Linked DNA regions of Homo sapiens: region 1 is linked to region 2. Evidence: fine-mapped expression QTL. A gene starts in region 2. The other region holds a variant in brackets. All regions are shown on one strand. Distances are from middle to middle.

Region 1 (4,389 bases), 42 kb after region 2:
TGCATGCTGCTGCACGCTGCCGCTTCCATAGAAATAGCTGTCCTCCAGGTGCGGTGGCTCACACCTGTAATCCCAGCACTTTGGGAGGCTGAGGTGGGTGGATCACCTGAGCTCAGGAGTTCAAGACCAGCCTGCCAATATGGTGAAACCCCGTCTCTATTAAAAATACAAAAACACAAAAATTAGCCAGGCGTGGTGGTGGGCACCTGTAATCCCAGCTACTTGGGAGGCTGAGGCAGGAGAACCATTTGAACCCAGAAGGCAGAGGTTGCAGTGAGCCAAGATTGTGCCACTACACTCCAGCCTGGGCAACAAAGGGAGACTCTGTCTCAACAAAAGAAATTGCTGCCTAACACCACTGCTTGGCCTTGGATTCTTTTCTGGGTAAAGCCAAGAACCCTCCGAGGCTAAGCCCCAGTTTTGAGGCTCATCTGCCCTGTATCAGGAGGAACATGTAATCCTGAGACCCAAAGAATGAGTAGCTCTCACAGTCAGTCTGGCAAAACTTTTCAAGTCTGATAATACCCAGTGCTGGTGGTAGGTGTAGGTGTTGGGCAGGGCGGGGTTATGGGGGAGGCACTATTCGCAGCAGTGGGAATGTAAGTTGGCCCCATTCTCCTGGAAAGTCATTTGGCACTCTGTGGGCACTGAAGACCAGCAGTGTCTCTGCTGGGGACAGCCTTGGTGGCCTCAAGAGTCACACAGATGAGGATGCTCGTTGTCTATTTTAGTCTCTGTGCTTGTCTCTGTGTTCCAAATGATCCATAATTTTTTAAAGTGTCTTTTAAAGAATATGTAGGTGTTCTGACTCTTGATCTGATGGCTGGTTACCCAGGCGTCCTTTTATAATAATTTGTTATACTGTTCTTTTGTTCTATGTGCTTTTCTTTATGGATATGACATTTCACAGTTTTTAAAAATTAGAAAGAATGAGTAGGCGAGACGCTGGGGTCAGGCAGTCTCAGGCAGAGGAAGCAGCCTGAGCAAAGCCCGGGGAGCTGGGCAAAGGCAGGGGTGTGCATGACCCTGGGAATCCTGGCCCAACAACCAGGCACCCTGGCCCAAGGACATGCGGTCCCCTGAGGAACAGCATCTCTGCTCCCACCTCTGGCTAGCCATTGGTGCAGCACCTGCACTGCCGAGGCCAGGCCTAATTTAGTCCCACTTCAGCCTGTGTGAGGCTGGATCAAAAGTGAGCTCTCAGTGAGGGGGAACCAGTAGAGGTGAGATGATGGGTTTAATAAAGTAGTTTAACCACCGCCACTGGGTGTGCTAAGAGGCGGTTGCTGTGGCCAGCAGGTGGAGGTTATAATGAGCCTGGCAGTTGTTGTTGGAGGCGGCAGGCAGTGGCTGTGCTGATGGGAGAATTCGTGGCAGTGGCAGCTTGACAACCTGTCTGGGGAGAGAGGGCGGAGCAGCGGCCACCGGTGGAGGCACGGGGGCAGCTGTGCCCACAGGGGTACTACTGATGGCTCCCCAACCAGCTCCACAGCCTTTTCCGGGGGCTTTTAGAAGGTTGGAGGAGATGGAGTACAGGCAGGGGTGGCAGGAAAGTTGTTTTTTCAGTGGAAGCCAAAGACAAACTTCAAGAGAAGAGGAAAAGTTGTTTGTTAAACTCTCTAGTGGTTTTCTGCATTGGCGATGGGAAGTCAAACCAAAGCACTGGGCTTTTGGCCTCAGCGGGGTGCTGCACCTGCAGGGTACGGAAGGGCACCTGGCATGAGGGAAAATGAGTGATTTATCTAACAAGTTGTCTTATTAGGAAAACATGGTGGCTCACTCCTCTAATCCTAGCACTTTGTGAGTTGTGATATGATTTCCAGGTGGGAGAATCACTTGAGCCCAGGAGTTCGAGATCAGCCTAGGCAACATAGTGAGACTCTATCTCTTAAAAAATTAGCCAGGCATGGTGGTCCACCTGTGGTCCCAGCTGCTTGGGAAGCTGAGGCGGGAGGATCGCTCGAGCCTGGGAGGTCAAGGTTGTAATGAGCTGTGATTGCGCCACTGCACTCTAGCCTGGGTGACAGAGTGAGACCCTCTCAAAAAAAAAAAAAAAAAAAAAAAGGCTGGGTGCGGTGGCTCATGCCTGTAATGCCAGCACTTTGGGAGGCCGAGGCGGGCAGATCACGAGGTCAGGAGTTTGAGACCAGCTTGGCCAACATGGTGAAACCTCATCTCTACTAAAAATACAAAAATTAGCC[G/A]GGTGTGGTGGCGCACGCCTGTAGTCCTAGCTACTCAGGAGGCTGAGGCAAGAGAATTGCTTGAACCCGGGAGGCGGAGGTTGCAGTGAGCTGAGCTCGTGCCACTGCACTCCAGCCTGGAATCTGTCTCAGAAGAGAAAAAAAATATCAGAAAACATTCAGACATTTAAAAAAGTATAGTGATTCTGTTCCAGATGAAGAAACAAGTAGAGATAAAATTGCAGCCCCTAGGCTGGGTGAGGTGGCTCACTCCTGTAATCCCAGCAGTTTGGGAGGCCAAGGCAGGTGGATCACCTGAGGTCAGAAATTCGAGACCAGGCTGGTCAATGTGGTGAAAATCTGTCTCTACTAAAAATACAAAAATTAGTTGGGTGTGGTGGCATGTACCTGTAGTCCCAGCTAATCAGGAGGCTGAGGCAGGAGAATTGCTTGAACCCAGGAGGTGGAGGTTGCAGTGAGCCAAGACTGCACCACTGCACTCCAGCCTGGGCCACAGAGCAACACTCCATCTCAAAAAAATAAAAAAGAAAAGAAAAAGAAAAAATAGCTGGGCACGGTGGTGGGCAGGCACCTGTAGTCCCAGCTACCTGGGAGGCTGAGGCAGGAGAATCGCTTGAGCCTGGTAGGCAGAGGTTGCAGTGAGCCAAGATTGCACCACTGCATTCCAGCCTGTGCAACAGAGCAAGACTGCATCTCAAAACAACAAGTAAATGGAATCATGTAATACGTGGTCTTTTGTGGACTGGTCAAGTGCATTTCTTTTAACGATTGAATGGCATTCCATCACATAAATTTACCACAATTTATTTATCCAAATAAATGGTGTGGAATTTTGCTTTCAGTCAAGATGGAGTAAAAAGGGGACTGTATTTTCCCTCCTGCCTGAAAAACTAAAACTCCAGACAAAATGGATGAGACAGCAGTTCTGAAGATGCTGGACATCAGGAACAAAGGACAGTGATCTGAGAGATGGGAAACGAGGGAGCTGAGCCCTGACTGCCCCAGCTCTACTGACTGCAGAGGGTCTCCAGGCTGTGGGACAGGGAGGGGGGATCCAGGTGGAGGCCAGTGGACTCCCAAGTTGAGTAGATGAAGCTGGCAGTCCAGGCAAGCCAAGGTGGCTAGAATTCACAGTGCATCCTACTGGGGACAAGAGAGCGAGAGAGAGAGAAAGAAGGAGAGAAAGAAGCCTGGAACCTGCAGAGACGCCTCCTCAAGTCTTCGCTGAGTACTGATTATTGCATGCATCTGAGGAAACCACCCAAGGCTGGGGAGAAAGCCCTCTAAATGAATTAAAGTGAACAATCCTCAGAACTCACACAGGGTTAGGAACAATGCCAGACTGGAAACTGTATAAATTTAAGGTATCACTGTTCAGAGCACCCAGAGAGGTTTTGCCTCAGTACCAGATAAAAATTAACCCGCAGCCTAGGCAACATAGCAAGACACTGTCTCTACACAAAATACAAAAATTAGCTGGGTGTGGTAGTGCATACCTGTAGTCCCAGCTACTCAGGAGGCTGAGGCAGGAGGATCACTTGATTCCAGGAGCCCAAGGCTGCAGTGAGCTCTGATTGCTACTCTACTCTAGCCTGGGCAACAGAGCAAGACCCTATCTCAAACATGAAAAAAATGTAAAATTAACCCTAGACTAAACACTGTTCTGGTCTTGCCTAACAAAGCTTAGAAGCAAGACCCAAAAGTATTAAACTATTTCCAAGAAATCATTGTAGAACTAAGCCTAAGAATATTTATGAGAACACAAAAAATATCCAGCACCCAATAAGGCAAAATTCACAATGTCTGGCACCCAATCAAAAATTGCCAGGTATTGGCCAGGCACTGGCCAGGCACAGTGGCTCATGCCTATAATCCCAGCACTTCGGAGGGACAAGGCGGGCAGATCACTTGGGGTCAGACATTCAAGACCAACCTGGCCGACATGGTGAAACCCCACCTCTATTAAAAATACAAAAATTAGCCAGGCCTGGTGACACATGCCTGTAGTCCCGGCTACTCAGGAGGCTGAGGCAGGAGAATTTGCTTGAACCAGGGAGGCGGAGGTTGCAATAGGCTGAGATCACACCACTGCACTCCAGCCTGGGTGACAGAATGAGACTCCATCTCAAAAAAAAAAAAAAAAAAAAATTTCCAGGCATTAAAAGAAATAGGAGAAATAGGCTGGGCA
Region 2 (4,389 bases):
TCTCCTTTCTCTGAGCCTCAGTTTGCTCATCACCAAAACTGGCACTAACAGCAGCCCTCACCTCTTGAGAACTGTTCAGACTGCCCACATCCAGCACCCAGCACACAGCCTGGTGCTGGGTAGCCCCTATCAGCGATAGCCATGATTATTCATTTCCTTCTTCCATGGTGAACCACACGGAGTGGGAACAAAGGTCTGGTGGCTGGACCTGGAGCTCCTCAAGGGTCAGTCCTCCCTCTGGCTGCAGTCCCTGGCACAGGGTGGGCCTATTGTTTATGTTGAGGGAGAGACTGGGTTGGCTTACTGTGGACCTGAAGGAGGAGCCAGAAGGAAACCCGATCCCAAGTGGGCAAAGGTCACTTGAGGCTCACCTTGTTTACCCTTTCCTCCAGTCCAACCCCAGGGAAGCCATGGGGCATGATGGGTGGGGTGGGATGGGATCAGGACACAGAACATGCTAATGAATATGGTCCTTCACTCAGGGAAGTGCCGTGCATTACAACTGGGCATCAGGGAGGAGGGACATTTGAATGGACACAACCAGGGCAGGTAGAGGTTTGGGGGTGGGGTGGGAAATGGCATTCAGGCCCAGAGAACAGCATGCTCAAGGCCTGGGTGTGAAGAGAAAGTCTTTCCCAAAGGATAGTCCTTGAACCCACCTGGTCTGGCCTTTTCTCCCCATCCATCTTCCGCAATCTCAACCAGGGTCCTCCCACCTGAACAACGTGGCAGCCCTTCTGTCCCCCATCCAGCCTCTCCTCTGCCCTGCTGTCCCTCTGCCCCATCTATCCCGCAGGAGCCCCCTTGAGCCTGTCATCCTGCCTGGTTGTAATAGCTTTCACCACCTTCTCATTGCTCTGTGAGAAGACCAAAGTCCAATGGCCTGTCTCTGTCACAAGCCCCTTTCTCAGCTCAGGCCACCTCAGGGATTGTCCCCCACTTCCATCCCTTGTGTCTCAGCTGGGAAGAGCTGTCTAGACTTTCTCTATCCCTTCTAGGTGGTTCCCCAGGACCTGGAACCCTCTTTTTTGTCTCCTGGGAAGTGACATTTCTTTGGATGAGTATAAGGCTAATGTCTTGGCTTTCTGAGCTCTGGGGACAGGGGAATGGACTCCCTAGAACCCCAACTGGTCCCTAGACTTTGAGCCTAGGGGACACTCGGTGAATAGATGAATGAGTGAATGAATGAATGAAGGAGTTATGGCTGACAACCAAGTTCCATGTCTGGAAAGGAGGCTCAGGCGCCTGCCAGGAGCAATAGAGAGGTCTCAAAGGTGGGGGCAGGAAAGCAGAAGACTGCCAATCGGGGTAGGGGCAACTGCCAGTCCGAGTAGGGGCAGTTCCCAGAACCGCCTGAGGAGCAGTGCAGCGCCCGACCAGCGAGAACCTCCGACCCTGGAGTCTAACCAGCTCAGTCTTTGGGGCAGAGCCGGGACAGCGGGCTTGGCGGCGGGCACCGCGCCCGGCCGCGTCCGAGCTCCAGCCAACAGGAAGAGCAGGAGTGGGGCCAGGAGAGGCGGGCCAGCTGGCCAGTGGGGAGTCCCGGGCGTGGGTGTGGGGAGCGGGGGAACCCCCGCCGGCCCCTCCCAGGCCCCAGCGGGCGGAGGGAGCCTCCCCACCGGGCCTCAGCGTCCTCCTCTGTAAAATGGGCCCCTTCTGAGGGCTGGCTGCGCGCTAATGGCGGGAGGATGCGAAGAGGGCCAGGCAGGGCAGAGGGACCGGGAGACTCGGTGTCCCGCGCAGGCAGAGGCGGAGGGACGCTGTCCCCGATTGCAGCTGGCGGGGCGAGGCCTGGCAGGGCGAGGCCTGGCGGGGGCGGGGCCTGGCGGGGGCGGGGCCGGCGGCACCTGGGTGAGGTCGCTCGGCCCCGCCCCCTCGCACTTCCGTGTGCCGCGGCGCCGGAGCCCGAGGCGGCTGTAGCCCACATCTCCCGAGCGACCCCCGGCGCCCGCCCGCCGCGCGGAGGCCCGGGCCACACCTCACTGGCCGCTTGGCCCATCCCAGTCAGCGCCGCGCCGAACCCCGTCCGCGCGCGCCGGGGAGCGGCGCCCCCGCCGCTGCCGCCGCGACCCTTGGCGCCTGCCCCTGCAACGGGAGGTAAGTGAGGGCCGGGTCCGGGCGCGGGATCGGGGCTACCCCGAGGGCGCGGCGCCCTTCCTTCCCCCTTCCCGCCCCAGTTCCCGTTTCCGAAACTGAGAAACTGAGCCGCGGTCAGCGAAAGTCCCGCCGCGCCGAGACCTGCCGGTGACTCCGTCCCCCTGTCCGTCTGTGTGTCCCTCCGCTAGACAGTGGGGGCTGAGGTCCTTCTGTCTGCCCGCTCCCGGCCCCTCCACCCGCCCGTGTGTCTCCCGCTCCTCCGAGGGGCCCGTCCGTCCCTCCCGACTCTCTCCCGGGCCCTGTGTCCGTCCGTCTGTCGCCACCCACTCTGTGTTCTCCCCCTGCGCGCCTCTCCGAGACCCGATCCTTCTGTCCCTCGCCACCCGATCCGTCCGTCCCTTGCCCTCCGCGTGCTCCATCGCCCCACCCCCACCCACACCCCTACCCCCGCCCGCCGCCCCCTCGATCCCGTCCTCCCGGAGCCGCGCCCCCGGCCCACGCTCGCCGCCCCCTGCCAGTCCAGCCGCCTCTCCGCTCTACCGCGGGGCCCAGGCCAGGCCGCCCGCCGGGCCTCGCCTCCCGCCCCTGGGTCCCTGGAGGCCCGACCCGCGCGGCGCCTCCTCCTCGCTGTCTCTTCTTTCGGTCTCAAGAGTCTTTCTCGGTCCCTTCATCCGTCTCTGGGCTGGGCGTGGCTCCAGTCTCCACCATCCCCCTTCCCACCCCACCCCTCCGCCCCTCTGAGACCCCTCCCAGGGTGGCCCCTGCCCGATACGGTCTGTACTCGCCCCCAACCCAGATGCCACTCCCGTTGTGGGGGCTCCACCAGATGAGGGGAGGAGGTCGGGGGGGGGGGTCCTCCTGGCTGGTGGTGGAGCGGCAGAAGGAGAGCACCATCGGAACTGCTCCCACTTCCCCAGTTCCCTCTCTCTTGGGGCAGGGGAGAGCCCCACCGAGCCCCGCCTTAAACCTGGTCAGAAGGATCTGCTGTGAGTGGGCGGGGGGTCCCCTTCTCTGACGCCTACCCTGTATGCGTGGAAGCTGTCTCCTTGTGCTAAGTCACTGGTATCTGGGTGTGTGGGTATGTTGTGTGTCTGTGTCAGCTTCTGTGCTGTCTGTCACTGTGGGACTTGCCTGTGCATGTGTGTCCTTTTTCGCATGTGTGACTTGCTTGTGTGTATGTGTGTATGTCTGTTTGTGTCCTGAGGCTCTGTGTGTGTCTTTTGCAACTGTGTGTACCATTCTTGGTGTGTTTGTTGTCACCAGACTCGTGTGTGTGTGTGTGTGTGTGTGTGTCCTTGCCTGCTAGTGTGTGTGTCCCTGTGTGTCTGGAGGTTTCGGTGTTGCACACTGGGTATATCATGGTGACCAACTGGCCATGAGTACGTTAGATCTGTTAATTGTGGAAGCCCCTGGTGTTGGGTGCCTACCCACCAGTCTCATGTGTGAGTGTATCTGTATAAGTGTGTGTATGTGTGTGTACTCACGTGTGGCTCTCCCTCTGCCACTGAGTTTCTGTGACCAGGCCCACCTGGTCACTAAGGGAGGGGACTGATCCCTGGGGTTTCCTCGTTCCTGCTGTGGAGTGAGCTGGGGCTTGGTGAGCAGGCCAGCAGAGGGAGGCTGTATGGTGCATGTGTGATATGTGTGGTTGTGTGTGTGCGTGTGTGTGTGACAGAGAGGTGTGGTGGTGTCTGGGCAGCTGTACCTGGCTGATGGGTGGTGTGAGGGCTATGCGATGGGACAGTGCTGGGGTAAGCCTGGGAGTGTGTGGCCACGGTAGGAGTGTGTGACTGGTGGGACACAGTCTATGAAACTGCCGGTGTATGCTTGGGGAGTGACTGTGATTGTGGGGAACCGAGAGTGCCTGGGCGTGGGTGTTAGCGGCAGGAGGGGGTGTGACAAGGTGTGTGGTGACAGTGCTGGGAGGGAAGGTGAGAGCCCAGTGTGGGGGTGTGTGTGTGAGTGTGTGGGAGACCATGAGGATGTGGGTGTGCACATGGAGAGGGCTAGAGGGCAAGTCTTGGGGTTTGTAGTGTTGTGACCAAGACCTCGGGCTCTGTACCCAAGAATTATTTGGGCTCCAATACTTGCTTGTGCCTGTTAAGAGCAAGAGACCCAAGCTAGGCCTCTCAAGGCTGAGTGTCCTTATCTGCAGAATGGAGAGAGTGAGGACAAAAGTTCCTGTGTTAAAGGTCCTTTAACACAATCTTGGCCCATAGTGAGAACACAGCACATGTGAAGTCTTTTGTTGTCACCACCCCCAGCTATACGGTTCCCATTCTCCTGGGAGCT

What was found. PIP is the estimated chance that this variant, and not a neighbour inherited with it, causes the effect.
Region 1: its variant is fine-mapped to the expression of PRKCD in whole blood (TOPMed, PIP above 0.99).

What each region holds. Positions count from the first base shown.
Region 1 is chr3:53,201,486-53,205,874 of GRCh38, forward strand. No RefSeq gene overlaps it. Among named protein-coding and RNA genes, the nearest start is that of PRKCD, 42 kb to the left of the region's middle. RefSeq lists an enhancer at 1,216-1,715. The variant G/A (reference allele first, on the strand shown) is at 2,202.
Region 2 is chr3:53,159,332-53,163,720 of GRCh38, forward strand. It overlaps PRKCD (protein kinase C delta), which reads left to right and starts at 1,878. Exons shown (of 19, transcript NM_006254.4): 1 at 1,878-2,097. RefSeq lists silencers at 1,380-2,329, 2,600-2,829.